7 linked regions of the Homo sapiens genome follow. The protein of the gene in region 7 purifies or fractionates together with the protein of the main gene of each other region. This does not show direct contact. Each region holds a gene or a part of one and is shown on either strand. Other genes may lie near its edges.

Region 1 (4,345 bases), on a different chromosome or scaffold from region 7:
CAGAGAAAGGGGAGGGGAGGCCAGCTTTATGGCACTTGAATGAATTATGATCCATACCTTGGAGAGAAACTTGACGGTGAGAGTAGCTGATGGGGGCTACGAGTTGACACACTCCTTTTTGTTAGGGGGGTTTCTGGGGTAGAGATAGCTCGCTTCTGAGAACCCTAGGGAAAAAAAAGGAAAACAAAATCTCAGTCCTACTAGACCCAATACTAATTAAGTGTATAGTACCTTGGAAGAAAAGGGAGAACATGTCCAAACGAAGGCACAAAATAGGACTGGGTGGGTTCTCTTCTTAAGGCCCCATCATCCAAGCATAATCTCAAAAAGAAATCTTCAACAACTGTAACCAACATTCAGGACACTGTCCCTATTTTGAAGGCAATTACGAGAAAGCAAACATTTTCCAAAAAGGACCACCAGGCTGGTAATGTGTCCTGTCAAATCCTTCATATGTTTACTTTCTGTCCCTACCTCTATGTTTTCAAACAGATATGAGTTTTACAATGCATAGTTTTGATCTATGTGTACACATTTTCCTGAGAAGGAATGGGACATTACTACTTACTTTGGCAAAGTCTACCATACATTTTCAAAGGAAATGACTCCAGGCAGATAACAAGGTTGAGCTCATACTTGAAGAGTTAGCAAACATCTGATGGTCACTCCTTTTTTTTTTTTTTTTTTTTGACTCATCAACAAGAATCCAAAGATAAGCCCAGAACGGAGGCTGAAACCTACAGTCCAGAGACCTATTGCTCCCTAAAGTCTAGGATAATCGACTGTAATAGAGAAAACAAAATCCTTGCCTGGATAGCAGCCAGGAAGCCAGCTAGTCTGCAGCTTTCCCTGCCCTAGGGCTCCTCCTGGCTGCAAGTTTAAGAAGTTATATTGCAGAGTGGTCAGCTGGTGGCAACTGCAGGACAGAATGCCAGAGAACAGATTCAAAACCATCAAAACCAGCTGCAATGGAAAATAGATTAAAAAAAAAATCCCTTATTCTACTACCCTGATATAATAACCAGTTTTGAATATTCCTTAATGGTATTTTAATATTTTTCTAGGCCAGGGGTGGTGGCTCATGCCTGTAATCCCAGCACTCTGGGAGGTCAAGGTGGGAGGATCACCTGAGCCCAGGAGTTCAAGACCAGCCTGGGCAACGGCGAGACCTCATGTCTGAGGAGGAAAAAGAAAAGCCAGGCGTGGTGCCTTATAATTTGTATATTAAGATTACAAATACACAAATTAGAATATACAAATTATAGTCATAATCTTAGTTTAAATATAAACCTAAGTATTTTATGTGCTGAATTTTTTCACTCTATATTAATTATCAACATTTTCCCACACTGTTACATTTTTAATCTTTTTTTTTTTTTTGAGATGGAGTCACTGTCACCCACGCTGGGGCACAGTGGCAAGATCTCGGCTCACTACAACCTCTGCCTCCTGGGTTCAAGCGATGCTGCTGCCTCAGCCTCTAGAGTAGCTGGGACTACAGGTGCCCGCCACCACATCCAGCTAATTTTTGTATCTTTAGTAGAGATGGGGTTTTGTCATGTTGGCCAGGCTGGTCTCAAACTCCTGACCTCAATTGATCCACCTGCCTCGGCCTCCCAAAATGCTGGAATTACACCCATGAGCTACTGCACCTGACCCAATCTTTTTCCCTTTTTTTTTTTCCGAGACGGAATTTCACTTCGCTCTTGTTGCCCAGGCTGGAGTGCGATGTGCGATCTCGGCTCACTGCAACCTCAGCTCACTGCAACTCCACCTCCCGTGTTCAAGTGATTCTCTGGCCTCAGCCTCTTGAGTAGCTGGGACTACAGGCATGCACCACCACGCCCAGCTAATTTTGTATTTCTAGTAGAGATGTGAGTTTCGCCATGTTGGTCAGGCTGGTCTCGAACTCCTGATCTCAGGTGATCCACCTGCCTCGGCCTCCCAAAGTGCTGGGATTACAGGTCTTTATCCTTTTTAGTAGCTGTGTTATTTAATTAAACTGACCTACAATGATTTACATAATTACTTCTCTATTGCTGGATTATGGGTTGCTTGTAATTTTCAGTGATTACAAGTAATGCTGAGTCTCAGGTGAAAAGTGATTTGGCAAATTAAGATTTTAAATTAAAAAAATGCTAAAATGCGTATCTTCATGCATACAGCTTTTCCCATAATTTGAATTATTTCTTCAGAAGAGTTTTTTTTTTCCCCCTAGGGAGAATTACTGGGTCAAATGATAGAAAAAGATTTTATGAATTTGGCCAGGGATGGTGGCTCGTGCCTGTAATCCTAGCATTTTAGGAGGCTGAGGCAGGAGGATCACTTGAGCTCAGGAGTTCAAGACCAGCCTGAGCAACATAGTGACACCCTGCCTTTATTTTTTTTATAATTAAAAAAAAAAGATTTTATAATTTTAACACATTTTCTCAAACTATCCCTCCAAAAGATTCTCCTAATATACAGTGGGCTACAACACTCCACGGCCAGTGTTGTGGGGCAGGGATATTTTGAGAGAATGACAGTCTGTCTCGCAAGACGTGGCAAGGTGACAGCACTTTGGTAAACAAGGCACAGTCTGGTGTTCTAGTCCTCAGCCTCAGGGCTGAAATCCAATAGTGTTCACCAACTCCAGTACCAGTTCTCAAGGATGCGCTCCCTTTAACCAAGCTCATACGATTCATTATTAACACTTAATGCCAATTTCATCATGTTTTTTTGTTGTTGTTGTTTTTGTTTTTTGAGACGGAGGGTTGCCCAGGGTGGAGTGTGCAGTGGCATGATCTCAGCTCACTGTAACCTCCGCCTCCTGGGTTCAGGCAATTCTCCTGCCTCAGCCTCCTGAGTAGCTGGGATTACAGGCATGTGCCACCATGCCGGGATAATTTTTGTATTTTTAGTAGAGATGGGGTTTTGCCATTTTGGCCAGGCTGGTCTCGAACTCCTGACCTCAGGTGATCCATCCACCTTGGCCTCCCAAAGTGCTAGGATTACAGGCATAAGCCACTGCGCCTGGCTAGTTTCATCTTTTCTTTTTTTTTTTTGAGATGGAGTTTTGCTCTGATTGCCCAGGCTGGAGTGCAGTGGCACGATCTCAGCTCACTGCAACCTCCGCCTCTGTTCAAGCAATTCTCCTGCCTCAGCCTCCCGAGTAGCTGGGATTACAGGCGCCCGCTGCCACGCCCGGCTAATATTTTTGTATTTTTAGTAGAGACAGGGTTTCACCATGTTGGCCAGGCTGGTCTTGAACTCCTGACCTCAGGTGATCCACCCATCTCAGCCTCCCAAAGTGCTGGGATTACAGGCGTGAGCCACCGCAGTGGCCGGTTTCATCATTTTTAATCAGAAATGTAGTCACCAATGGTACCATATTTTCATATCCTAGGGTAAGCACATTCTCACACTCACAGAGAAAATCAAATTATAACCAAGGATGCCAGTTTATTAATTTACTAGAAATATAATTGCCAAGGGTATGGGAACGTCAAGTCCTCAGGCTAACACATTCTCTCCGTTAGGGACATGGCAGCCAAATCATCAGCAGATTTATGGTGAACACGGAAGCAAAAGAACAGCTGTCAATCGTACAGGTGAAATATTTAATAGTGATAAGCTAAAATCACTGACATATCATATTTACCTCTATAGCAGAGGGACACCTGTTCCCAAGACCTGACAAGGGTCAGGCAACCTCAGCCTGGCACTGTTTGTATGGAAAGGCCAACATTCACACTTTTCTTTTTTTTTGAGATGGAGTCTCACTTTCTCGCCCAGGCTGAAGTGCAATGGCATGATCTCAGCTCACTGCAACCTCCGCCTCCTGGGTTCAAGTGTTTCTTCTGTCTCAGCCTCTCGAGTAGCTGGGATTACAGACACCCACCATCATGCCTAGCTAATTTTTGTACTTTTGTAGCGATGGGGTTTCACCATGGTGGCCAGACTGGTCTCGAACCCCTGACCTCCAGTGATCCTCCCACCTCGGCCTCCCAAAGTGCTGGGATTACAGGTGTGAGCCACCATGCCTGGCCACACTTTGACTATTTTATCATGCTGCCATTGATGCATGGCCTAACAGTGACTGAACAATTTCCATGTGATAAGTACTGTTCTAAGCATTTTACGTATCTCTAGCCTGGACATATTGTTTGCTCAACATTTCACTCCAACTCATTTAGCGTGGAATTCACAGTCACAAACTTTTTTTTTTTTTTTTTTTTCAGACGGAGTCTGGTTCTGTCATCCAGCCTGGAGGGCAGTGGTGTAATCTTGGCTCACTGCAACTTCCACCTCCCGGGTTCAAGCGATTCTCCTGCCTCAGCCTCCTGAGTGGCTGGGATTATAGGCA
Region 2 (4,345 bases), on a different chromosome or scaffold from region 7:
CTCTCCCAGATATATATATTCCTTCCCTCAACATACTCAAGTTTTAAATTCTACTCTGTAGTTATTTTCAGCAAATCTGATTATTTCAGGTTTTGTTTTATGCATCCCATCTAGAGTGAGATACAAAGAAGAACCTCAAGCTCATGTTCCCACACGAGACTCACTGCTGGCCTGACAGGTGCCCTGACAGTGCTACAGCCAGCCCGGGACAGTTCCAGGGCTCCACACACCCACACATCCCCAAAGCGACAGGTTCCCAAATGTCTTTTATCAGCTTCAGAAATGATTTTCAAAATGTCCTTTTTAACAAAATGTGTTGGGTTATCCCATACATAAAGATATAAAAAATAAAACTTTTACTTTGGGAGGCCGAGGCAGGTGGATCGTGTGAGGTCAGGAGTTCAAAACCAGCCTGACCAACACAGAGAAACCCCATCTCTACTAAAAATACAAAATTAGCTGGGCATGGTGGTGCATGCCTGTAATCCCAGATACTTGGGAGGCTGAGGCAAGAGAATCGCTTGAACCTGGGAGGTGGAGGTTGCAGTGAGCCGAGATTGTGCCACTGCATTCCAACCTGGGCAACAAGAGCGAAACTCCGTCTCAGGAAAAAAAAAAAAATAATAATAATAAATAAATAAAACTTTTTGTTTGCCAAGTAACAATCCTGTTTGATACCATGCCATGACTTAGGGACTTTATACAGACTAACAACAGATACCAAAATTAACAGGAGAAGTTACAGAAAAATAAAAGGCTTTAAAAACTTCCAGTGCTCTGATGGCTGGAATCTTAGGTTATTATCCATTTCTTTTGGGAATGAATAAATGAACAAGGTCTTATCTAAGAGAATTGTGGTTTAAAACAAGCATACCCTGAAAATAAAATGCATCTTGGAAAATAAATATGTAAGATTAGGGAAGAAAAATCTGGAAAAACAACTCTCTTGGATTTTAAAATACATAATAAACCTACAGTAATTAAAACAGCTTGGTACTAGACATAAAAAGGCAGATTAAAGGAACAGAATAGAGAGTTCAGAAGTTGATCTAATTTGAAATGGGAGATGAACACAGAAGTAATAATGCTGAGTGGTTAACACGCTCTGGAGTCAGACTCTGAATTTAAATCCTGGAGCTTTGCCATCTATAAGCTGTGTGACTGCTGGCTATTAACCACTCTTCCTTGTAGTTTTTTCATCTATAACATGCATGATAATATACCAGAATTTACTGGCATTACTCTGAGGATTAAATGAAATTACATGTTGACCGGGCACAGTGGCTCACTCCTCTAATCCTAGCACTTTGGGAGGCCGAGGCGGGTGGATTGCTTGAGCTCAGGAATACGAGACCAGCCTGGGCAACATGGTGAAACCCTATCTCTACAAAAAAATACAAAAAATTAGCAGAGCATGGTGGTGCACACCTGCAGTACCAGCTACTCAGAGGGCTGAGGCAGGAGCATTCCCTGAATCTGGGAGGTCAAGGCCGCAGTGAGCCAAGATCATGCCACTGCACTGCAGCCTGGGTGACAATGTGAGAACCTGTCTCAAAAAAAAAAGAAAAAAAATGACATGTGAAGGGCCTCCAGCAGTTATCTGATATATAATAAGCACTTGATTAATGTTAGAAATTGTTGCATAAAGGTGACCTTTCCAATTAGTCAAAAAAGAAAAAAAAGAAAGATTCTTCCATTGATGTTGGTACAACTGCAAACCTTTTAGAAAAAAATCTAATCTGCTTTCCTACTTCATGCCCCATATAAAATTAAAAATCACTAATGAAACAAAAGATTTAAATATTATAAAACACAAACATGATAGTTCTAGAGAAAGAACAAGGGAAATATTTTGCTATTACTTTAATAATTTTGCTATAGAGCATGTCTTCCTAAGCATGACATAAAACCCAGAAGCTATAAAATAAGACTAATAAATATTATACAGATTTTTAAACAGTTCAGCAAACAGTTTCAATAGAAAATTCCAAAGACAACAGAAAACATCTAAAAAATATATTTTATATATATAGTATATGCATATATGTATATATAATATGTATATATGTATATATATTATAAACAAAGATGTTTATAAATATAAAAGGTGAACAAACACATAGAAAATATAGGTTAATTAAAGAATACAAATAAAAGTGAGCTATTACTTTCAACTAGCAAATCAGGAAAAATGAGAAATTGGATCACAGAGCAGGAGGAAATGTAGGTATCATATGCTGTCAACATCTACTGTTGGTGGGAGCACCAACTGGTATATTTTTGGAGGTCAATTTGCTAAGCACTATCAACTTTGTGAATGCACATACAATTTTGATGCCAGAAAGTTACCTTACGGATACACATGCGCACACACATGCACGTGCATGCACGCGCGCACACACCCACACACATACTCAAGCAACTGTGCACAAGGGGAGTTAACTCCCAAGCTACCTGGAGTGGAAAAGCAGAAATGCCTCATTCTTCGTGAAGTTAAATCAGAGGGGCAGAGGGAAAGTTCACAGACGTATTTTGTCTGGACTACACACCATTGGAAAAAATGGTCCAACACGTAGGAATTAGGAGATTTCACACACAAAATCCAGGTTTCCAGTTATTTTGGGAAGAGGAGAACTCAGATGATCTGGCAACTGGGACCTATATTTTCATGTGGGCAACACTCAGCTGGCACGGCTGCTCCCTTCAGGCAGGACTGGGCTTTCATACTCTGCACTGGAGTGGGCACCATCAGCTGATCCAACAAATACAGTATCAAAGACAAACCTACAAGTTCAGTTTCTTTGAATCAGTGGTTTCTTGCTAGGGGGACAATCAGGAGGGGTGGGACCTACAGCATACTCAAGCAGACACTACTGTCACTCTGCTACACCTCTTCCTACCTGATGGTAAGGACTGAGTCTGTGTCACTGAGTTAAATACACCGGTGCAGCAGCCTTTAAGACAGAAAGTCAGGACTAATAGGGACTAACACAGGAAGGTGTCCATGACAAATTAATTGGGGGGAAAAGTGCACAGAACAAACCACACACACACACACACACACACACACACAAATATTCCTATTTATGGTTTTGAAGTATATTATACATATACAAACACACACACACACATATATATATATATATATATATATATATACGCTTGCATATGCACAGAAAATTTTTGGAAAGATAGAAAAATACCAGTGTTTGCTATTCAAGACTTTTGAGCAAGTTTTAAAAACATACATATATATATATATATATACACACACACACACACACTTACATGTATGAATATGTATGAATCACATACATGTATGGAATCTATAACAGGTCAGCAAACTATGGCCTATGGGCAAGCCACCCACTTCTGTCTGCACTCCTTCGCCGACATTTCATCTATGATGGCTTTTGTACTAAAACAGCAGAGTTGAGTAGCTGAGAAAGAGTCTGTGTGGACCTCAAAGCCAAAAATATTTACTATCTGTCCCTTTAAGAAAAGTTTGCCAAGGCTTGATCTACAGCCTCTAAAATCAGATGCAGCTGGGTGGGCGTGGTGGCTCATACCTGTAATCTCAGCACTTTGGGAGGCCAAGGTGGGTGGATCACTTGAGGCCAGGAGTTCAAGACTAGCCTGGCCAACATGCCAACACCTTGTCTCTACTAAAAATACAAAAAAATTAGCTGGGTGCAGTGGCTCACGCCTGTGATACCAGCTACTTGGGAGGCTGAGGCACAAGAATCGCTTGAACCCAGAAGGCAGAGGTTGTAGTGAGCCAAATCGTGCCACTGCACTCCAGCCTGGGTGACACAGTGAGACCCTGTCTCAAAATAAGTAAATAAAATAAAATAAAATCAGATGCAGCTGTAGTACATGAGCAAATTAAAGAGAAAAACTTCACAAACACTAATAGAATTTGGCTGAATCACATTAACTCACTTAAGGTCAGTGAAGACACAATTCATTTACCTGTGGAAACAGTACTTTTTAAGGTCTTCAAAGTAGTCATTATTGATGGAAGCACTCGGATTGTGGAGAAGTGGACTGCTATCAATTAAAGAATCGTCCCAAGCTTGAGGCCACGGTTCTAGATTTTCTTCAATAGCTTGAGAAATCCCTTTATCGTGAGGAGAAATGATCTGAGCTCCATTATCCCAATAGACCTAGAGGACCCAGGAACACATTCAGAAGGTTTACAGTTAATGGAAATAAGGCACCTATTACCTATGGTCCCAAAAATTACAGATACAGGATTCCTACAGAAGGATGTACGTGTGGAGTAGAAAAAGGAAAATACCTTATAACCATTATCCTGCTTTGGATTGTGAGATGCAGTTATCAT
Region 3 (4,345 bases), on a different chromosome or scaffold from region 7:
CACAGGACAATAGTGGAGGGAAGGTCAGCAGACAAACAAGTGAACAAAGGTCTCTGGTTTTCCTAGGCAGAGGACCCTGCGGCCTTCTGCAGTGTTTGTGTCCCTGGGTACTTGAGATTAGGGAGTGGTGATGACTCTTAACAAGCATGCTGCCTTTCAAGCATCTGTTTAACAAAGCACATCTTGCACCGCCCTTAATCCATTTAACCTTGAGTGGACACAGCACATGTTTCAGAGAGCACGGGGTTGGGGGTAAGGTCACAGATCAACAGGATCCCAAGGCAGAAGAATTTTTCTTAGTACAAAACAAAATGAAAAGTCTCCCATGTCTACTTCTTTCCACACAGACACGGCAACCATCCGATTTCTCAATCCCTTCCCCACCTTTCCCCCCTTTCTACTCCACAAAACCGCCACGGTCATCATGGCCCGTTCTCCATGAGCTGCTGGGCACACCTCCCAGACGGGGTGGTGGCCGGGCAGAGGGGCTCCTCACTTCCCAGTAGGGGCAGCCGGGCAGAGGCGCCCCTCACCTCCCGGACGGGGCGGCTGGCCGGGCGGGGGGCTGACCCCCCCACCTCCCTCCCTCCCGGACGGGGCGGCTGGCCGGGCGGGGGGCTGACCCCCCCACCTCCCGGACGGGGCGGCTGGCCGGGCGGGGGGCTGACCCCCCACCTCCCTCCCAGACGGGGTGGCTGGCCGGCCGGGGGCTGACCCCCACCTCCCTCCCGGACGGGGCGGCTGGCCTGGTGGGGGCTGACCCCCACCTCCCTCCCGGATGGCGTGGTTGCCGGGCGGAGACGCTCCTCACTTCCCAGACAGGGTGGCTGCCAGGCGGAGGGGCTCCTCACTTCTCAGATGGGGTGGCTGCCGGGCGGAGGGGCTCCTCACTTAGACGGGGCGGTTGCCGGGCAGAGGGTCTCCTCACTTCTCAGATGGGGCAGCCGGGCAGAGACGCTCCTCACCTCCCAGATGGGGTCGCGGCCGGGCAGAGGCGCTCCCCACATCCCAGATGATGGGCGGCCGGGCAGAGACGCTCCTCACCTCCTAGACGGGATGGCGGCTGGGAAGAGGCGCCCCTCACTTCCTAGATGGGATGGCGGCCAGGCAGAGACGCTCCTCACTTTCCAGACTGGGCAGCCAGGCAGAGGGGCTCCCCACATCCCAGACGATGGGTGGCCAGGCAGAGACGCTCCTCACTTCCCAGACGGGGTGGCAGCCGGGCAGAGGCTGCAATCTCGGCACTTTGGGAGGCCAAGGCAGGCGGCTGGGAGGTGGAGGTTGTAGCGAGCAGAGATCACGCCACTGCACTCCAGCCTGGGCACTATTGAGCACTGAGTGAACAAGACTCCGTCCGCAATCCCAGCACCCCGGGAGGCCGAGGCTGGCGGATCACTCGCGGTTAGGAGCTGGAGACCAGCCAGGCCAACACAGCGAAACCCCGTCTCCACCAAAAAAATACGAAAACCAGTCAGGCGTGGCGGCGCGTGCCTGCAATCGCAGGCACTCAGCAGGCTGAGGCAGGAGAATCAGGCAGGGAGGTTGCAGTGAGCCGAGATGGCAGCAGTACAGTCCAGCTTCAGCTAGGCATCAGAGGGAGACCGTGGGGAGAGGGGGAGGAGGAGGGGGAGAGGGAGAGCTGTGGATTTTTTATAGATTCCCTTTGTCAGATTGAGAAAGTTGCCATCTGTTCCTAGTTTGTTCAGTGTTTTTGTCATGAAAGGGTGTTGTATTTTGTCAAATACTTTTTCTGTTGACTTTTTGTGTTGAAATCCACATTGGATTTCATTGTTTCCTAAGAAATAAGTAAAACTCATTTATTCCAAGTGATATTTAATAATATTAAACTCAATTAGAAAAGCAGCTTTGTGGTATTTGTCAAATGTTATTCGAAGCATATTCTGTTCTCTCTTAACCATAAAGGCCTAACCCCAAATATTTATCTGTTAATAATTTACACGAGATGATCGTGTAAATTTTTTTTATTCTGTTGATATGTGATATTTGACAAACCTTGGCAAAAGAATATCCATTGGCCAAGAATTTTTTTAATGACATTAATTTGTAAAATAAGATAATTTCATCTCAGTCAACAGATGAAACATTTAGTTAGTAGATTAATTGATGTTATACTGAGTTCCTCCCAGTTCCATCTGCATTCAAAACCCTTAACTTATAAATGTGCCGAATTTGTCAAGTTTTGAAAAACTTGAAACCTACACAAAAGTTAAAAGAATAGTACAATGAACATCCTAAAACCCCGTACCTTGATAGACCAATGTTTTACATTTTGTCAAACTTGCTTTTGCTCTTGCTAACAGCCTCCAAAACAGGCTGTTAATGTTTTTGGTTGTTGTTGGTTTTTTTTTTTTAAGTCATTCTTTTTATTCAAAGTGTGGTTCTTGGACTAGCAACATCAGCTTCACCAGGGAAATGGTTAGAAATGCAGAATCTCCGGCAGACCTAGACCTGTTGATTCAGAACTTACATTTTATTATAACAAGACGCCCCCATATGCATTTTAAAGTTTTGGGAGTGGTGGTCTACTCCTACCTCTTACTCTCCTGACCAATCATTCATCTGTCTTCTCCCTAAGTATGCAGTCCTCAGCCTGTTTTACATTAGAATTACTTGGGATGCTTTTTAAAAGTGACTACTGATGCCCAGGCCCCACCTCCAGCCTTTCTGGTTTAATTGATTTGCTTAGGAACTTAAGCATGAGTATGTTAATAAAGCTTCCTAGGTTATTCCAGCCTGCAACCAAGGTTGAGAACCACAGCCTCCGATACTTCCTCTGTTAAGGAGCATACTACTTTAGGATAGCGTATTCCATTTTTAAATAACTCTAATTGTTATAAATTTCTGTCTTATATTAAGGACTTAATGGGATTTCTCTAAGTAGCAATTATCTTTAATATATTTGAAAACCAATTGACTGTGGTTACACAACATTATGAATGTATTTAAATAATACCATTGAACTATACACTTAAAAATGGTTACAATGATACATTTTGTTATGTGTATTTTGCCCCAATAAAAAAATAGAAAAAAACCCAATTGACTGTAGTTTTTATTCAAATTGTAAACACATATTAGATATAATATGCTGTACTTAGATGCATTTTGTCCTACCTTAGAGCCATATAGTTTATCATTTTTGATAGATTGCCAACATTTCCATGTATTTCGTGCTTGTTCTTAATTAGTAGATTTATAGAGAAAATTATTTTTCTTTTCCTTCTCTCTTCTAGAGTTCTTCAGATGCTATATATTTGGCAAGGCATGTTGGTTTGCGTGTGGGAATCCCAAAGGAGACCCCAGCTCTCACGATTAATAGGCTCTGTGGTTCTGGTTTTCAGTCCATTGTGAATGGATGTCAGGTATGGACAACATTTTTTTAAATTCTCTGAAAATATGTTAATAGTTACTAGAAGAAATGTCCCACTGCAATATAACACTTTAGCTTTAGGGAGGATTGCTTGAGCCCTGGAGGTCAAGTAAACCATGATCATACCACTGCACTCCAGCCATGGGCAACAGAGTGAGACCTTGGCTCCAAAAAAAAGAAAAAAAAAAAAAAGCTAATAATGAACCTGAAAGTGGAATAAGCCTGTCATAAAAGGACAAATACTGTATGTTTCTACTTCTTTGAGATACCTAGCGTAGTCAAATTCATAGAGACAGAAAGTAGAATGGTGTTCCCAGGGACTGGTGAGGGAAAGTTAGTGTTTAATGGATATGGAGTTTCAGTTTTGCAAGATGAAAAGCGTTCTGGAGATGGGTGATGGTAATGGTTGCATCACACTATGAATACACTTAAACTACTGAGCTGTATACTTAAAAATGGTTAAAATGGTAAGTATTATATATATATATATACTTCAATATTTTTAAAAGCTAGTATGTTCATCATTCTTTCGAGTGCTTCCTACATGCTAGGCACCCTGCTAGATTTACATTCAATATCTCATTTAATCTTACAACCATCCTATGAAGCAAGAACTATTATTATTATTCCCATTTTACAGGCAAGGAAACTGATTAAAGCCATTAAGGTTACTCAGTCATAGAATTTGAACCCAGGTCTGTGAGTGTTACCTGTGAGGCACTGAATAAAGACCGTGAGGCAAGCAGGAAATCTCAAGAATTTAGGAGAGGATAAGGAAATGTATTTTATTTCAAAGGAAGTGAATGATGCTGTTAGTAGAAGTACAAACTAGTTTGACCTTTTTAAAGGACAGTTGGTTAAATACATTTGTTTCTTTGAGCACAGAGAAGAAAGTGAAATCCAATTTCATTTGTAAAAGTCTTCATTTTATTACAAACAAAATAAGAGCCAGAG
Region 4 (4,345 bases), on a different chromosome or scaffold from region 7:
TCAGTTCCCGATTGATAAAGAAACACTTAGACTTCTGATCCTAGGTTTATACACCTGTCACTTTACAGTGGGTAGAGTTAATTCCTAGAAGCAGAATTTTGCTGGGTCAACAGGCTATGTACACTTGTAATTCTGCTAGACTAGCAACAGTTCCACTAATTTACATTCCCACAGACAATGTATGGGAGTGCCTGCTTCCTCATCCCTTGCCAACCCAGGTGTTATCAAAAGGACATCAAATTGATTTTGTATTCCAGTACAAACTCTTGGCTCATAGTGTTTAGTTTCATCATTATTCTCAAGCTCATCAGGTTCATCTGACCGATATTTATGAAGGGCCTACTCTGTAAAAAGGGAACAGGTTGCTAAACAAAGAGAACAAAACACACCAATGAAATGAGCAAAAGCTTCTGAAATTCAGCAGAGAGGAAGACTGATTTCAACTTGAAAGAAATCTCCCTGGAGGAGGCAAGCTCCGACCTACCTAGATCCTGAAGGACATGTCAACTTTGGACAGAGAAAGGAGTCCCAGAAAGGAGGTGAGAACAAGTAGTGTGTTGGAACAGGAAAGCATAGGGTATGGTCCGTGGCACAGCAGTGTGAGGAGAGGAAGAGAATGCTCAAGTGGCAGCTCGAAGAGTGACTGCCCTGGCAAGGCCTGAGCTAGGGAAGAATCAGTCAGTGATCTGAGAATTGGGATTTCCACTTTAGGCATTAGCTAAGTGATCATGAGAAATACTAGCTTACCTGGGCCTCAGGAGGTTAGCCCTGAAACCAAAATTTCTGTAGCTGCAGAACTGTGTGTTCAAAGTAAATCTTACAGTCAAGACTAACGACAAGCAAGCACAACTGCGCTGGGAGAGGGAACAGGAAGGAACTCAGCCCCTTATTCTAGTTGCTCCATCCTGATAACCTGAGGGAGGAGGGGGCAAGAAACTCTTAGGATTATGTGAAGCACAGTCTAAATGCAAGGAGGCCTAGGTAGCTAAGGTTCCCTTCAGCTCGAAAAACTACTCCAATTCAATGTCAGATGGTACACCTGTACCTTCATTTCTATTCTGCTTGCCTATGATTCATTTATTAACAGGAATTCACTGAGTACCCACTACATTTCAGACAGTGTTATAGGATCTGGGGAGACATGGGCTAAGGTTGCAAAGACTCTTCCCTCTCAGGTTTAATTTCTACTTGGAAGGGAGAGAGAAAAATGAAGAAATAAACGTATAATGTGTCAGAGCAACGAGTGTAAGAGGAAAAAGTGTAATGACTGTTCCACTCATCAAAACTCTACACATCCTCATGTCAGGAGTCTTTCCTTCAGCCTTTTCAGCTTTGCATTCTTACAGATCATCTGTTCTCTTCTCTGAAATCCTACAGCACTTTGGACCACGCTGTAAGCCTCTGCCACTTGTTAACTACTTCATTGTACTGGGCTTCTCTTGCTAAGACTGTAAGTCTCTTGTAGGTGCTATACAAATCCTCGACAGCTACCACAGTGCTGCATGCACAGCACTGGTACACACTGCACAGGCATTCAGTACTATTGACTGCTATGACATTACCGTTTTAGAATAGCAAAGGTGTTGTGCCTTTTCTCTACACTGTAGACTAGAATATTCGAGTGACAAAATTACCTAAAAGGGCAGAATGAAATGAACTAATTAACTTAACAGAAAACCAAATTGGATCTGGTAAGAAGTAGTGACCTTCAGGTGGTCCAGGTGTTTGGGACAGAAGCTAATCCTAAAACACTAACTAGTCAAGGCCCAAACAATGGGGCGGAAATTAAAGGGTTAGAGTGTAGGGGCAGCTGTCAATGCCTGTGAAAGTGGACAGACAAGGATGTGCAGAAGAAAAGAGCAGACCCAGGGTCCCTGCACCACTAGATTTCACAGTCACCTCCTCCCTGAAATGGGGGTCTGGTCCTAGCTCTCCTGCCACCACCCATACCTGCCTTCAACACCGCCCACCCCCACACCCTCCATCCCAACCCTGGAAGCTCAATGCTCTGCTCCAGGCTTAAAAACTGTCAAGGGCAACTTTGCCACCAAAAAGTTCTTCTCTTTCTTTTTGTAACAGAGAAATATGCATACTGGAATTATTTTTTTTTTTTACATCAAAAGGTCTGATAATCCTTACGTAACAGTTCTTTAATTATCCCCCAAGACAGCACATTAGACGAAAAGCTCCTGTGACACAAAGGTCTACAGCAGCACTAGTCACAACAGCCAAGAGGTAGAAAAAACCCAAATGTCCATCAACAGATGAACGTATGAAGCTGGGCGCGGTGGCTCATGCCTGTAATCCCAGCACTTTGGGAGGCTGAAGCAGGAGGATCACAAGGTCAGGAGATCGAGACCATCCTGGCTAACATGGCGAAACCCTGTCTCTACTAAAAATACAAAAAATTAGCTGGGCATGGTGGTGGGCACCTGTAGTCCCAGCTACTCGGGAGGCTGAGGCAGGAGAATGGTGTGAACCCCGGAGGCGGAGCTTGCAGTGAGCCGAGATCGCGCCACTGCACTCCAGCCTGGGCGACAGAGCGAGACTCTGTCTCAAAAACAAAACAAAACAAAAAACAGATGAATGCATGAACAAAATGTGGTCTATCCATACACTGGAATATTATTCAGCCATAGAAAGGAATGAAGTACTGACACACACTACGAAGATGAATCTTGTAAATCAATGCGAAGTATAAGAAAGAAGCCAGCCACAGGAGGCTGTGCGTTGCGTGATTCTATTTATATGAAATATCCAGAATAGGCAAATCCCAAAAGACAGAAAACAGGTTAGCAGTTGCCAGAGGTTAGGGGGAAGGAGAATCAGGGAACGACTGTTCATGAGTACAGGGTGTCCTCTTGGGGTGATGAAAACGTTTTGCAGCTAAACAGTGGTGATGGTTGCAGGACCCTGTTAATGTACCAAATGCCACTGAATTATACATTTAAAAATGGCTAAAAGGGTAAAATTTAGATTATGTGTATTTTATCCCAATAAAAAATAGTTCCTGCAAATTCAATAAACTTTAAAATAAATTTATATCTTACTAATCTCTAAAACGTAATGGGAAATTAGGAGCTATGAACATCAAAAAGCCACATATACGCAGGTTGTGTTTAGTCCCCAGACAATGCTTGGTGTGAACACAGACTCTTGGAACTCTTGTACAACTGGAGCTAATAATAATGATAATTACAGCTAGCATTTACTGAACTACACACTGGCTGTATGATAAGATCTGGCTCTGTGTTACCACCCAAATCTCATCTCAAATTGTAATTAACACATGTCAAGGGAGGGACCTGTGATCCCCATGTGTCAAGGAAGGGAGGTGACTGGACCATGGGGGCAGCTTCCCCCATGTTGTTCTGGTGACGGTGAGTGAGTTCTCACAAGATCTGTTTAGGAGTTCCTCCTTCCTCCTCCTCTCTCTCCTGCCGCCATGTAAAACGTGCCTGATTCCCCTTCCACCATGACTGTAAGTTTCCCAAGGCCTCCCCAGCCATGCAGAACTGTGAGTGAATTAAACCTCTTTCCATTATAAATTACCCAGTCATGGGTAGTATCTTTACAGCAGTATGAAACAGACTAATATACTCTTAAGTGCTCACATTTAATCTTATAATTACTCTCATTTTACACAAGATAATACAGGCAAAGAGAGGCTAACCAACTTGTCCAAGATTAAATAGCCAGTAGGTGGCAGAGCCTCAGAATGGAAATCTGAAGCCCACCTAGTTTTAGAATGTATGTTTTTAGTCAAAGCTCCATACCTCACAACACAGATCCTCCTCACTTGGGCTCAATCCAGTCTTTTTCACTAGCTATCCACCCCAAACATCACCATTTTCACACAGAGAACTACCTACTCAGCCTTTGCATGTGCAGTGCCTTCCACCTGGAGCACCTATCTCAAGTGCTGCTGTCATGCATCCAGTGCCTCCTCTCCTCTCTGAAGTCTGTGCTGAGGTGGAGGTGATGGGAACCAGGGCCTCCACGGTTCTTGTGCAATCTGCCCTTACTCTGCTCTTTCCACCAGCATTCATGCCTGTAAACACTGCCCATTTTCGCCTGAGGACAGGAACAAAGAATTTTTATGCCTCCAGCAAAACCAAAGGTATCTTGTACTCTGCTGGTGAACAACGTAGACTGCAAACCTATGGACCATAAGTCTGAGTCAGTCGAGCCATTTTGTTTGGTCATTATAGCATTTTCAAACACCAACAACATAATGGGAATGCCTTCCCCAGGGCACCCGATCCTGGTGTGGCATACTGCTGCTTGGTATTTTAGTGATGGGCAGCTCCAGGCTTGTAAGCTGTCCTGACCTAGTCATTAACTA
Region 5 (5,114 bases), on a different chromosome or scaffold from region 7:
CTCCATTAAAGTATAACAATGCTTCCAATTCAGGAATACTTCAAGGTCCTCGCGTAAAAAACATCTTTTTACGCGAAGATATTAAGTTTTAATATCTTAATATTGGAGTAGAGGAATTAAATAGGATTGCATTTTCTTCCCACTAACGTTTCTTTTGAACAGCTAGTTCTAAGAAAAACTTATCTAAAGAATGTTTGACTTGAAAAACTTTTTTTTTAAAATTTTTTTAGTATTTATTGATCATTCTTGGGTGTTTCTCGGGAGAGGGGGATTTGGCAGGGTCATAGGACAATAGTGGAGGGAAGGTCAGCAGATAAACATGTGAACAAAGGTCTCTGGTTTTCCTAGGCAGAGGGCTCTGCCGCCTTTCGCAGTGTTTGTGTCCCTGGGTACTTGAGATTAGGGAGTGGTGATGACTCTTAACGAGTATGCTGCTTCCAAGCATCTGTTTAACAAAGCACATCTTGCACCGCCCTTAATCCATTTAACCCTTAGTGGACACAGCACATGTTTCAGAGAGCAGGGGGTTGGGGGTAAGGTTATAGATTAACAGCATCCCAAGGCAGAAGAATTTTTCTTAGTACAGAACAAAATGGAGTCTCCTATGTCTACTTCTTTCTACACATAGTAACAATCTGATCTCTCTTTCTTTTCCCCACATTTCCCCCTTTTCTATTCGACAATACCGCCATCGTCATCATGGCCCGTTCTCAATGAGCTGTTGGGTACACCTCCCAGACGGGGTGGCGGCCGGGCAGAGGGGCTCCTCACTTCCCAGACTGGGCGGCCGGGCAGAGGCGCCCCCCACCTCCCAGACGGGGCAGCGGCCGGGCGGGGGCTGCCCCCCACCTCCCAGACGGGGCGGCTGGCCGGGCGGGGGCTGCCCCCCACCTCCCGGAGAAAAACTTCAAAGGTTGTGCAGTGAGTGAGACTGTTAGCTAGCACCTTCACCTCAGGCTACTTACCAAGCATTGGAAAGTGCACTGTCCAAGATTCCAGAACATATTCTACTTACTTTGACCCCTTAGACCTCATTCTGTTCTTCTACAAAGTGAAAAGGTGGCCTTCTCATTAATTCTCAAACCACCTGCATGGCAGAAATCACCAGAACTCCTGTTTACAGAGGATCTTTATATATTATTACAGATGTAATAAATCAGAATTCAAGGAGTGGTTTCCAAAAATCTGTATTTTTAATTTCCTAGGCGACTCTGTTATCACCCAGGTTTGGAACCTACCAACCTAGCCAGTTACAATAACCCCATTTTCTTCTCAACTTTTTTTTTTTTTTTTTCCGTCTGTAAAATGGACAGGCATTTGCAAGTACTGTTATGTATCACTGAATCACAGGAACAAATTCTGAGAAATGCTTCCTTAGGCAATTTTGTCACTATGTGAACATCAGAATGTACTTGTACAAACCTAGTTGATGTCACCTACTACAAACTTAGGCTATTTGGTATGGCCTATTGCTCCTAGGCTACAAACCTGTAGAGCATGTTACTGTACCTAATACTGTAAACAACTGTAAAATGATGGTAAGTACTTGTGTATCCAAACATAGATAAAGCACAGTAAAAATATAGTAATATGGGACCACGGTCATATATGCGGTCTGTTGTTGGACGAAACATCACTACTATGTCTGTGGCAGATGACTATAAACTAATTTCTCTGACTTATGGTCATTAATCATCTTTGCCCTTTTTTTCTTTACTACATGTATTATATACTGACTCAAAAGGTGTGCTGATTAAGAGCTCTAATAATAAGAACAGACAATATGGTTTACAATATAACAACATGTATTTTCATTAGATATTAATTATAAACCAATAACGCATGTAAACTGAATACAATACTTCAAATCATTCTGCACAAAGAAATTACAGATCACATTTTTTTAATAACAAAATGTCTACTTGTTTAATAAAATGTTTTTAGGAACTTACAATGTTCAAAACCAAAGAATAAAAATATTAAATATATCACTTTATGGCACAGGACAACATAAATTTATTTTTGTAACACAGCAGGCAAATTTTTGTGCTAGAAACAGGATGGAGAAAAATCTAAATTAAAGCAAAAAGTCAGGAAATGGGTGTTCATAAATTCCTGCTTAACTAAGACTCAACATTTATTGTAAGAAACGGGGCCTCTGAACATCAGATTTTGTTTATAAAAATAAAAACTTCCTCCCTGTCTCTGCTAAAAATACAAAAATTAGCTGGGCGTGGTGGTGCATGCCTGTAGTCCCAGCTACTCGTGAGGCTGAGGCAGGAGAAGCCTGGCGACAGAGAGTCTGCCTCAAAAAAAAAAAAACAAAACAAATAAATAAAAATAAAAACTTCCTCAAACATCAGATTTTTTCACCTCAGCAAATACTTTTTCCTTTGATAATTCATAATCCTGCTGTTCATTTGTCACATTTATGAATATCTGGTAATTTCATAAACAACTACCAATGGTACACTTCAAATGCTGATTCTGTTGAATCTTCTTATTTTTTTTCCCCCAATGAACTTAGGGCCTATGATAGAGAAGATACTGAAACATGCTAAGATAATAATTGGTCTTAGAAAGACTTTACAGCAAGTATTTAATGAAAGCCACTACATTTCCAGCTCTAAAAAGAGCCAGACACAATCCCTGCTTCCAGAGTTCACCATTCAGAATACAGGAGGTCAAGCACTGATTCTGAATCATTAATGGGCTTTGATTTCGTCTTTCAAGATTTGCATAGATACTGATTTCTTCCGGAAGGGCAAATAAAATCTTCCCTTACACACATCATTCTTTGGATTCTCATAAGGGGTATTTTGAAGTCTGTATGTTGACAAGGCCAGTAGATACTTTGTTTTCTCTAACTGCCTTCTTCTACTTAAGACTATGTCAAGTATTTTGTTTTCCCTTTCAGTTCTCCCCAACATACACCTTCTGCAGTTTTGTCTATCCAGTCCGCTTTTCTGTAACACTTTGCTACCCCCTTCTGTTCCCCTTCACTGTTTCCTCTGTTGCTTTCCTCCTTAATAGAAGCCTGGTGATCTGGGCTTCCCCATCTTTCCTTTCCTGGCTTCTTATTCACATGGGTGACTGATCTTAGCACTTCCTTAAAAGTTGGGTTTTCAATAAATATAACTCATCAGCACTTCCGATCTGTATTTCCTTGAGCTTTTTTTTGATCTTCAGATCTGTGCAATAATACTCTGTTCCTGAATGCTATTTAGAAATACTATCCTCAAAACACCAGTGGTTTCTTGAAGCTACTTGTTTTAAATGTTGTATCAAAAGAGATTGATAAAGGAATGTATAACTCAGCAAAGGATGCTTCTACTGTAAATTCCCACCATTAAAAGTACTGGATTCTATAGGTCCACCATTAAAAGCTGGTATGGGACACCAATTTATACACATAAGGGTTAGATTAAAATTTTAATTTTTTGGTTGATATTAAACTGAAATTTATATAACTGAGGTCTGAATCTTAAAAAAAGTAAATGATAAAAATTTAATATAGTTAACTGTTCACTGATATGTCTATTCACTTCATCACAACCTATATATTTAATTAAAAATCAAATTATGAGTCTGCAAATCAGATGCTATCAAGCAAATTGCCATCCAGGGTCCATAATTCTTTTTATATTTTTATCTCAGATGAATATATACGATTCAGTAAATTTTAATGTTCCAAATTGTTCTAAAAAAAAAAATTATCAAAAGCTTCCAGTTAACAGTTGGCTAATTCATTTGCCCCCAACGAACTACCTGTTTGTGTTGTGAGGTAGCATCAAAGACTATGATCTTCTGTGACAGTAGTAGCCTTAATTCATACGCATTCCCTCTTCATAGGAAGAGTATGGACAACAAAAAGGGACAGATGAGTCACCTTTCATTAATCATTGACTCCTGGTGTTTTCATAGTATGTTAAATGCCTGATTTCAATTTTACAACAACAAAAAATACCAATATTTATTCTGAAAGGCAATCGTATGTTCCAAGTAGCAGATATTAACAACTTCCAACACGATCTCTAGGAATAATCCGCAGTTCTGAACCATGTTTTAGAAAAACATTTCCTATACAAACAAACAAAACATAAAGTTAGATATCTAAAAATCAAGTTATCTTAATATTCTGACAATTATTAAATATAATAAATGATTTAGTAAACAGTAAAATGGGTACAAAAGCTCAAGCATCATGAGACCCCAATTCCAAGCTTTTTAAGTCTTGTTCCTATTCTCCTATCTTCACAATCCAACATACGCTTAAAATTTAAAATAACACCAGCCATGAAAACTCTGACGAATACTTTCATCAAGTAACTGTGAATAATTTAATCATGAATACTTCCTTCAATACACAATAATATATCTAAGGACAGGAAAAAAAATGTAAATTACTACAAGTGACAAAAATTTAGATACCCTGACATATTTGGGGTCAATTGCCTGATGAGATTTTCTTCATATCAAGGATATGCACATTCAATTTTTAAAGATAATAAAACAAGCAGTATGTTAGAGTTAGCAGTAATTCAAACTACTGTAAAATATTGAAAGTTTCTCGATTAAGAAAAAAAGAAACCTTTGTCTACTAAGTTTAAAGGCATCCATACAATAAAGTGCCTCACGATTTTCAATAAACCTTTTTAATAAAATTATATATTAACAACTACTGAAGTAACAAAAATTTGCAATTTTAAATCACTTCATTTTCTTTATGGCTGAATTTCAACTGCAAGGCCTGTGAAAACAACATAATTTTGTTACAATAAAGAAATACTTTAGAATATAATTTAAAAATAACTACTGCTCTAGAATGAGGTTACATTAAAGCATGCCTAATTTTAAAACTTTAGATTATAAGCCTAAGAGATTACATTTTAAAAATATAAAACTAATTTTAAAAAAGTTTTAGACTTCTTTTTATAAAGTATGAGACTACTTTTACCCTGTCTCCTGGTCAGGACACCAATATATCACCTGTATAAATTTAACAGTTTGAAGATCTGAATGTAGACTCAGCCCCTTGAAATGTAAATGACTATATTTAAAAAAAATAATAGCACTTAATGAATGCTTTCTATAAATAATCCAAGCTATGAAGC
Region 6 (4,345 bases), on a different chromosome or scaffold from region 7:
TCTGTTTGGTGAGTTATCTATGGCTGCTTTTGCACAACATCGGCAGAGGTGAGTAGTTCCAACAGAGACTATATGCAGATGGAAGTGACTGCACAACACAGAAAGCCTAAAATATTAACTATCTGGCCATTTATAGAAAAAGTTTGCTGATTGAATGGGCTGAGCTCTAAAGACCAACAGCACCACTGCCTCTAACTTTAATCGTATGACTGCCTTTCAGAAACTTAAGTTTTTTTTTTTTTGAGACTTAGTTTCTTTATGAAATAAGTCGATACCTGTACCTCTATCTTAAAGAGAGATTTAAAGGAACATACTTTACACATCTTAAGAAAATGCCTTAAATCCAAGGTGACATCATCATGACCATCATATTCACTGAATACTCTTTCACCTCAAAGGTGTTCACATATTTTTCAAACATATTTAAACACCACCTGAACATGAAGGAGGGCTTCTGGGATGCTGGTAATATTCTATTCCTTGACCTGGGTGGTGGTTACACAAGTGTGTTTACTTTGAGATAACCCATCAAGCTGTGTCGGCATTGTATGCTTCAATAAAAGGTGTCTAAGTTAAAATAAATGAGCTTTCTCTATTCTTCAACCACAGTCTCTTACAGACTCAGGCCCTCACCCCCAATAATGTCAAAATCACAGGTCCTACCTTGTTCCCAGAAGCATCTTTTCCCTTCCCTTCTTCCTCCACATGAAAGCGGAGGTTCTCCAGCAGGATGACAGACCCAGCAGCTGGGTTGGCACAGGCTTTCTCCACTTCTGGGCCTACACAGTCCTTCAAGAACAGAACATCCCTGAGAAGAGGAAGAGATGAAGACACTTGAGCAGTATGAAAGTTAAAAACCAGTAACAACGTGCTTGACAACTTCCCCCGCCACAAAGTCTACCAGCACCAGAGCCTGGCACTTACTTGCCCAGCAGAGATTTGAGTTCTACAGCAACTGGCTCTAAGGAGTACTTGTCAGGCATGGGCACACCATCAGGCCGGCCTAGGTGGCTCATAAGGACTACCGACTTGGCTCCATTGTCCAAGCAGAATTTGATGCTTGGGACAGCAGCCTTAATCCTGCAACCAAAGAGAGACAACAAACAGAATGAAGTTACTCCTAGAAATTAGTGGGAACTAGCTTATTGATAACCTCATAAAGCATAAAGCTCCTTTTCTTCTCCAAGTTCCTTCAAATCTACTATCAGTAATTCAATGGTGGTCCTTAAGAAGTTAAATGCAATGCCAACCCTCCACCTAGGATTGTACAATCTCATTATGTATCTGCCCCTTTCACAGACAAGAGTTAACACAGCAGGCCTGAGGCTACTATCTACAGAAGGACCTGTCTGCAAGATTAGATCCTGGCTGGTATCTGGGAACTTGGCTTTCAAAGTTAACTGACAAGACCAACAAGGGCTATTCACTCTTCCTAGACCGTCTATACAAACATGGTGATTTATGCTGAACACCTGCCCCACTCTAGAAGTCTAGAATTTTTTTTTTCTTTTCCTTTTTTTGTTGAGACAGGGTCTCACTCTGTCACCCAACAGGCTGGAGTGGAGAGGCACAATCTCAGCTCACTGCAGCTTCAACCTCCCCAGGGGCTTAGGTCATCTTCCTACCTCAGCCTCCCAAGTAGCTGGAACTACAGGAATGCACCACCATGCCCAGCTAATTTTTGTATTTTTTGTAGGGGTTTTACCATGTTGTCCAGGCTGGTCTTGAACTCCTGGGCTCAAGTTATCTGCAGGCCTCAGCCTCCCAAACTGCTGGGAATACAGGCGTGAGCCACCACACCCAGCAGAAGTTTGTAATTTTGGTAGTTGCTAGGCAGAGGATCCCTATGTTACCAGTTCCCAACAAAAATCTTGGGATCTGAGTCTCTAGCATGCTTCTCCAGGCAGAAACACTGCAGACAATTACTGCATTTTTCACTGCTGAAGAAAGGAAAACACTTGATGTGTCCCCTCACAGGAAACTGGAAGCCCATGGATTTCTCTAGACTCCCCCATGTCTTTTCCTCTTCCTAATCTTGTCATGCATTCTTTCACTGTAATAAACTTTAGCCATGAGAACAACTCTGAGTCCTAGCAAATCATCATGAGATATGTGGGTGATCTTGGGGACCCCTGAAAACACTTCTTATATGACTATGGAAAATACATAAAATTCTCAAATCTTGAAACCATCAAAGGAAATTTGGGGAAAAATAAAAAACATGTAGTAACTTTTCTGCACCTATTAATAGATCCTAAGTCACTTTTTTATGTAGGAAAAAATAATTGCACTGTCTAGAGCTTGGTTTCCATAATGTATCACATTCATTACATTATAAATTAATCAAAAAATTAACTCCCTTTAAACATTTAAAAGTTTTGTTATAAACCTGCTACTAACTTGCCATTTTGCCAGTTTATAAGAAATTAAAATTGATCAAGAAAAGCATTTATTTATTCATCAAATATTTATTGAATGCTTCTTTTGTGCCAGGCATCATTCCAGGTTCTGAGAATGAAACAGAAAACTTTTTTAAAAACTCTCTGTTCTCATGGAAGTGAAATTCTAATGGAGAGAGACAATAAACATGTATGTGTGTGTGCGTACATGTAATATATCAGATGGTGAGATACAGAAAAAAAACAAACCATTGTTCCCCATTTTTGTTCCCCTACTTTTGAGGACAAAAATGACCGGGGAACAATGGTAGAGGAGATTTTTAGACAGGATGGCCAGGGAAAGTCTGATATGATGACATCTGAGCAAAGAATGGAATGATTAAAAAAGTTATACTTTTAAAATATCTTATGTTATTAATATTTAGCAGATATAAGAACTCCTTTATATCAAATTTAAAAATCTGTATCAGGTACAAAGTTTGTGCAATGGAACCAATTAGTTTTCAGGACTATCCCTTATCAGCAAGTTTTATTATTTCTAATGCTTCATTTTGTTAATCAACTCCATGGATTTCCGGAAATGAAAAGATTTCCAAACATGTTTCTTTACTCTTAAAATAACTTGATAGGCATATTTCCAATCGTTTCTGTGTGTTGCACAATAATGAAGATCAAGCGGGATCAGATCTGCCTTATACAAAGACCCTGCCACTATGGTACAGCAGGGATGTGCTTGGCAAAATGACAGGCTCTATTCTAGGACCAATACCTGAAAATGTTCTGGGCTAGACCTGCACTGTCCATTACGACAGTCATTTAGTCATGTGTGTCTGTTGAGTACCAGATATATAACTAGATCAAATTGAGATGTGCTGTAGTATAAAAACACATGCCAGATCTTGAAGACTTAGTACCAAAAAAGTTAAATGTCCCTTTAATTTAATTAACACAATTTGGCTCACATTGTATTTCTATTAGATACCACTGGTCTAGATCATTAGAAAGCACCTTGCCAACACAAACCCTTCATTTAAAATTTAAAATAGGCGGAGCACAGTGACTCATGCCTGTATTCCCAGCACTTTGGGAGGCCAAGGTGGGCGGGGTCCAGGAGCTCAAGGCCAGCTTGGGCAAAAGGGCAAAACGCTGTCTCTACAAAAAAAATATGAAAAAGTAGCCAGGTGTGGTGGCCCACGCCTGTGGTCTCAGCTCCCTGGGAGGCTGAGATGGGAGGATCGCTTGAGCCCAGGAGGCAGAGATTGCAGTGAGCCAAGATCGTGCCACTGCACTCCAGCCTGGGCGACAGAACGAGGCCCTGTCTCAAAAAAAAAAAAAAATTAAATAAAAACCTTCTTGATGGATACCCCATTTAACCTGATGTGATTATGTATTGCATGCTTTTATCAAAATATCTCATGTAACCCATATATATATATATATAAAATCTACAAAAATTAAAAATTAAAAAAATTAAAAAGAAAGTAAAGACAAAAATAAAGACCTTTTATAATCTAGTCAAAAGCAAGAGCAGTACTCTCACTTAAAATTTGTTTCTGAATCTAGGATCCAAGACACTGGAGCAGCTAAACTGACTGAAAACGTACTTCTGAAGTCTTTCCTGTTTGTTTTTTTGGAAGCAAAAACAAATGAAAATTCTCAAAAATTGACTTATCTGAGCCATTTGAATGGGGGCTTGTAAAACTACATATAACCTTAGTAACTACTGGTACTTTTAAAATCCTTCTCTTACATAGTTCTTCATTTTGCAAGAGAAGCCAAGTAACCTTAAATTTTTATATTTTTTGTGTGTGTTTTATAGAGATGGTGTCTTACTATATTGGCCAGGCTGTTCTCGAACTACTGGCCTCAAGCAATCCTCCTGCCTCGGCCTTCCAAAGTGCTGGGATTACAGATGTGAGCCACCGCACCCAGCCAACTTTTATATT
Region 7 (4,345 bases):
GCAGCGGCCAAGGCCTCGTGCAGGGTCACCCCAGCCCCGATAACGGTCACCTGGTCATCCTTGCTCTTCAGGACCACCTGGGGGTGACACAGAGGGTGAGTAAGGCTCAGGGCCCTGGGGCAGGGTGTGCCCTGACTGCTGGGAGTCACAGCAGGGAGGGTCCAGGCAGCTCTGTGGGCTCCTGGGGCATGCGAGGCACTGACCTTGGCTTGTCCGACCTGGAAGTCCTCATTGTTGTTATAGATGATGGCATTTTCTGGGCGGCTGGTCCGGATGAAGCAGATACCCTGAGACCGAAACAGATAAACTGAGGATACAGGATGTGGCACACCCAACCTCAGAGACGAGGTCTTTCTAGAGAGGCCATCCCTTCCCATGGGAGCGTTAGTTACTGCATCCTGGCTACTCCAGCAGGGAAAAGGGCCTTGCTTGCCCTCTGCCGCCCGCACCCCACTTGAACACTCTGAGAACTGCCCACCACCTTGCAGCCTCAGACCGAAGGCAACTTTCCACCAGGTAGACTGGCTGCAGGTGGGCTACTCCCACAGACTGCACCAGGCAGAGGGGCAGGAACCACGCGCACTGGGTCTGTGGCATGCAGCTCCGGGCCTGGACCACAGGGCTCAGCTCATCCTTGCCTGTCTTGGAGAACCCAACTCAGGAGGGTGGAGAGGTGTCAACCGCTGGACCGGCCAGGGCTGCCAGGATTCTCAGCAGAGACAGACTGGCAATCAGTTGACAATGTCTGCCACGTGGCAGTAAGTGGGGTGTGTATTTCGTTTTTTCTTGTCTAACTTCCACAAGCTACACGAACACCAGGGGCAAGGTCAGGAAACACCCCCTGGGGCAGCAAGTGACCAGCTCTGGCCTCCTCTTCTGTTTCCCTTGGGAAGTGATGGCTGCCAGCAGGAGAAAGAACAGCCATGCAACCTACCTTTGTATTGGCGGCTAGTTCCACTGCCTTCTCTGTAGCAACGCCATCACTTGGGTAAAAGACAGTTGATGTGGGGACTGACCGAAACATAGCCAGATCTTCTAGGGCCATCTGGGAGGGCCCGTCTTCCCCTGGGGTGTGGGGGAAAGGATATGCAGAAATAAGACCCCTACCCCCCCATCCATGGGCTGGAATCCTGGCCCATCCCCCTCCCATACCTCCTGGTGCAAAAGTCAAGGGAGCTCCAGGTGTAAACACCCTGGCTAAACTCACCGATGGAAACGCCGCAGTGGGAGCCGCAGAGGTTGATGTTGCTCTCGGAGATGGCGGCCATGCGAATCTGGTCAAAGGCCCGCGTGAAGAAGGCTGCAAAAGTGCTGCAGAAGGGCACCGTCCTGTTGCGGGTGGCACAGCCCACCGCGATGCTCACCTGGGGGCAGGTGGGACAGGGTCAGCCCAAAGGGGCAGGCAGAGGGTGGTCGGGGAGCCTAGGACCCCTTTTGTGGAGAAAGCCACAATTTGTATATAGATTGTCCATCCTTTCTGGGCTTCTGAATATGTCCCCCACCACCTTCTTCTGCAGAGACCGGTCCTCCCAACCCCTCCCTGGGGTCCGAGGGCAGCAGCCTCATGCCTGCTGAGGCTCCAGGCCCCAAATCACTCATCCAGAAGCAGCACTGAGTACAGTCATCAGTTCCAAACCAGCTGCCCTTCAAGGCTCCAAAATCTGCCAGCCAACACAAGGCCTCTTTCCCTAGTACCTGGGACCTCCCCAGCCCCACGCCCTGCAGAGCAGTCTCTGGAAACCACAGAGAGAATTTCAGGTCCAGTTGGAAGAACTCTGGAGATCTGAGTGCCCTCCAGAGAGAGGAAGCTCCCTGTCCCTAGGGGCCTGCAAGCCAGGCTGGGCTCCTGGACCACCAGGAGGGGATATTTTGAAAACATGGACAAAACATTGTTCCTTACTTCACAACCTCAGTTCCTGACAAGGGTCTGCTTCCCCAAATGGGTACATGTCAGGGGCCCAGAGTTCCCTCATCTCTGCATCCCTCAGGGTGGCAGGGCCCAGAGCCGTGTGCATTACAGGTGCTCTACAGACTCGGGCTGCTAAACCCATCACGGCCCCACCTACTGGCCAGGCCTGTCCTCCACCTGGAAGAGACCCCATTCACCACCAGGCCTGGCCTGTACGCAGCTCCTCCTGAGAGCACCTGCAGTCCCATTCGGCTCCCCCATGTGCACACCTGTCCAGGACATTTGCACCTGGGCAGAACCTCCCAAACTGTGGCTGTTCAAGGTCAGGGGTTAACGCTGGGTCCTGGCTTTTCTTATAGTCTCCCTGGGCTGGCCTACAGCAGGCACCTGGCTCTGCCAACATGGCTGCCCCGCACCCCTCAGACCACAGCCCTCAGCCTTGGGTGGACCTGTCCCTGCCGGCCCCAGCACCTACCATGTTCTGCTCAGCAATGTAGCACTCGATGAAGCGGTCCGGGTGCTCCTTTTTGAAGATCTCCGAGAAGGTGGAATTTTTGGTGTCCCCATCCAGGGCGATGATGCGGTCACTGGCATGGCCCAGCTTGGCCAGTGCCTGCCCGTAGGCCTTGCGGGTGGCTATCTGTGAGGAAGAGAGTGGGAAGGCTCTGGACCCCTCTGAGGGTGAGTGCACACCTGCAGCCTGGAGCCCTGCTTTCAGAGAAGGATTAAAACGGGGCCAAAAATGGAAGCCCTGGAGCACAAGGTCCTGCAGAGGCTTTTAACTGCTGAAAGGTTGCCAACGACTACGGTCAATGTCTTGGGAGCCCCTGGAGCCCCGGCCCCTTCTGGCTGTGAAAGGTATAAGCTACAGAAGACACCCACCAGCCCCAACTTCCCGCCTGCTGCACCAGGTCCATGAACCTATTCCACTTTGCATGGGAACACAGAAGGCTTGGGAGTCAAGGCCAGGCACAGGCTGCATGGATGGGTTCCCTTGGGACAGAAACCTGGAGTGGGACAGCTCTGCCTAGCCTTTCCCAGGTCAGGTGGGGGTCCTGAGCTCAGGCCAAGGGTCCCTCGTGGACCAGCGATGCAAGAACTTGGGAGTGAGTCCTTGGCTTTGATCTCAGTTCTGTCAGTAGCTTGCTAAGCTTGCTAAGTGGGCAATTCCCTTGCCCGGTCTGAGCCTCTGCAGGTCAACTCCAGAGATGTCTGTCATTCTGAGGGAAGTGACAGGAACAACACCTCAGGGATCACTCCTCGCCCTAAATGAATCGCTCTCCTCCCTTTCCCAGCCCTCCAGAGGGTGTATCTGGGCCACAGACTTGGGAAACCTGAGAACTATGGGTTCAGAGAAACAGGCCCCACTTTGTACCTTGTCCCCAACTTTGTAGCTGGGCAGGCTGGGCATGCGGATGTTGGCAATGTCCACTGAGGGTGCGTCCTCCTGTGGAGGGGTTGCCAGGATCTTCTTTTTGCTCTGGATCTGGCTGTAGATCTCCTGGATGATCTGCTCAGCCATGTTTTTGGGGAGGGGCTTCCCATGCCAAGACTCCTTATCTTCTACCCCTGCAGACCCAACACGGGAGGACAGAGGAATGGGTAAGACAGAAGCTCCCAGAGGGCCAGGAGGCTGCTCCAGGAGACTGGCCCTCTACCTGCCGAGGGCAAGGGAGGAATGGCATCATCCCAGACAGGCAGAGCCCAGCCAGGCACGGGGGCCAGGAAAGGAGGGTCGCAGTGAATAGGATGGACTCCTACGTGCCCACCACTCACTGTCTACTGCCTGGTCCTTTGGGAGCTCACAGCTGAGTGGGAAAGGAGGGGCCAGACGTGGGCAGGTGTGTGTTTCTGGGCCCACTGCCCCATCCCTTCACCAATGTGTCCATTCTCTTCCTCCCCACAACCCCGCCTGCAGGGTCACACACAGGTAGAGGTGTCTGCTGCAGAAATACTCAGTTTGTCGACTGGGTTGGAAGGGACCCTGGCCATCAGAAGGGGAACCCAAGGCCCAGAACAGGGCTTCCAGGGTCACCCAATGCATCTGTGAGCAGCAGAGGAGTCTATAAGCACCTAGGCATGCCCACCCCATGGCACCTTGTTGTGTGCGGCCAGGAAGGCTGAATATCCCTCTCCCTGGAGGTCACCTCAGTAGTCACTAGAGTCTGGCCAGAGCCAAGAACAGACTGAACTCCCAGGTAGCACCCAGCAGCCCGAAAGACTAGCAGGAGCCCCCAAGAAGCTGCAAGTGGTCCAGATCCTGCCCATTTTTAACACCAGAGGGCAGTGCCAGGCAGCAGCACCAAAGCCATGACAATATCCCAGAGCCCTTTCCTCGACATCCACCCCCTCCCAGACACCTCCCAGCACTGCCAAACCCCCACTCAGAACATCCTCATATACCTGAGTCTACATGGGCAGAACAAGCCACAACCC

Evidence for each region.
Region 1: the proteins of TKT (region 7) and POLA2 purify together in Homo sapiens (affinity purification with mass spectrometry; 2 studies listed by BioGRID and IntAct, with this or other methods). This does not show direct contact.
Region 2: the proteins of TKT (region 7) and PGM2 fractionate together in Homo sapiens (co-fractionation; one large-scale study listed by BioGRID). This does not show direct contact.
Region 3: the proteins of TKT (region 7) and ACAA2 fractionate together in Homo sapiens (co-fractionation; one large-scale study listed by BioGRID). This does not show direct contact.
Region 4: the proteins of TKT (region 7) and PITPNB fractionate together in Homo sapiens (co-fractionation; one large-scale study listed by BioGRID). This does not show direct contact.
Region 5: the proteins of TKT (region 7) and UFM1 fractionate together in Homo sapiens (co-fractionation; 2 studies listed by BioGRID). This does not show direct contact.
Region 6: the proteins of TKT (region 7) and PGK1 purify together in Homo sapiens (affinity purification with mass spectrometry; 2 studies listed by BioGRID, with this or other methods). This does not show direct contact.

Annotation. Positions count from the first base shown.
Region 1 is NC_000011.10:65,271,711-65,276,055, reverse strand, and holds part of POLA2 (DNA polymerase alpha subunit B), read right to left. Parts: intron 165-4,345; coding exon 58-164; intron 1-57. UniProt on the Homo sapiens protein: Accessory subunit of the DNA polymerase alpha complex (also known as the alpha DNA polymerase-primase complex) which plays an essential role in the initiation of DNA synthesis.
Region 2 is NC_000004.12:37,839,887-37,844,231, reverse strand, and holds part of PGM2 (phosphopentomutase), read right to left. Parts: coding exon 4,301-4,345; intron 4,167-4,300; coding exon 3,973-4,166; intron 1-3,972. UniProt on the Homo sapiens protein: Catalyzes the conversion of the nucleoside breakdown products ribose-1-phosphate and deoxyribose-1-phosphate to the corresponding 5-phosphopentoses.
Region 3 is NC_000018.10:49,796,504-49,800,848, reverse strand, and holds part of ACAA2 (3-ketoacyl-CoA thiolase, mitochondrial), read left to right. Parts: intron 1-3,254; coding exon 3,255-3,383; intron 3,384-4,345. UniProt on the Homo sapiens protein: In the production of energy from fats, this is one of the enzymes that catalyzes the last step of the mitochondrial beta-oxidation pathway, an aerobic process breaking down fatty acids into acetyl-CoA.
Region 4 is NC_000022.11:27,888,257-27,892,601, forward strand, and holds part of PITPNB (phosphatidylinositol transfer protein beta isoform), read right to left. Parts: intron 4,075-4,345; coding exon of another isoform or gene 3,916-4,074; exon of another isoform or gene 3,873-3,915; intron 1-3,872. UniProt on the Homo sapiens protein: Catalyzes the transfer of phosphatidylinositol and phosphatidylcholine between membranes. Also catalyzes the transfer of sphingomyelin.
Region 5 is NC_000013.11:38,359,677-38,364,790, reverse strand, and holds the end of UFM1 (ubiquitin-fold modifier 1), read right to left. Parts: intron 4,751-5,114; coding exon of another isoform or gene 4,725-4,750; exon of another isoform or gene 4,081-4,724; coding exon 4,013-4,080; 3' UTR 1,172-4,012; downstream 1-1,171. UniProt on the Homo sapiens protein: Ubiquitin-like modifier which can be covalently attached via an isopeptide bond to lysine residues of substrate proteins as a monomer or a lysine-linked polymer.
Region 6 is NC_000023.11:78,110,479-78,114,823, reverse strand, and holds part of PGK1 (phosphoglycerate kinase 1), read right to left. Parts: intron 1,081-4,345; coding exon 925-1,080; intron 809-924; coding exon 664-808; intron 1-663. UniProt on the Homo sapiens protein: Catalyzes one of the two ATP producing reactions in the glycolytic pathway via the reversible conversion of 1,3-diphosphoglycerate to 3-phosphoglycerate.
Region 7 is NC_000003.12:53,228,073-53,232,417, forward strand, and holds part of TKT (transketolase), read right to left. Parts: intron 3,479-4,345; coding exon 3,285-3,478; intron 2,550-3,284; coding exon 2,385-2,549; intron 1,365-2,384; coding exon 1,208-1,364; intron 1,066-1,207; coding exon 935-1,065; intron 288-934; coding exon 204-287; intron 78-203; coding exon 1-77. UniProt on the Homo sapiens protein: Catalyzes the transfer of a two-carbon ketol group from a ketose donor to an aldose acceptor, via a covalent intermediate with the cofactor thiamine pyrophosphate.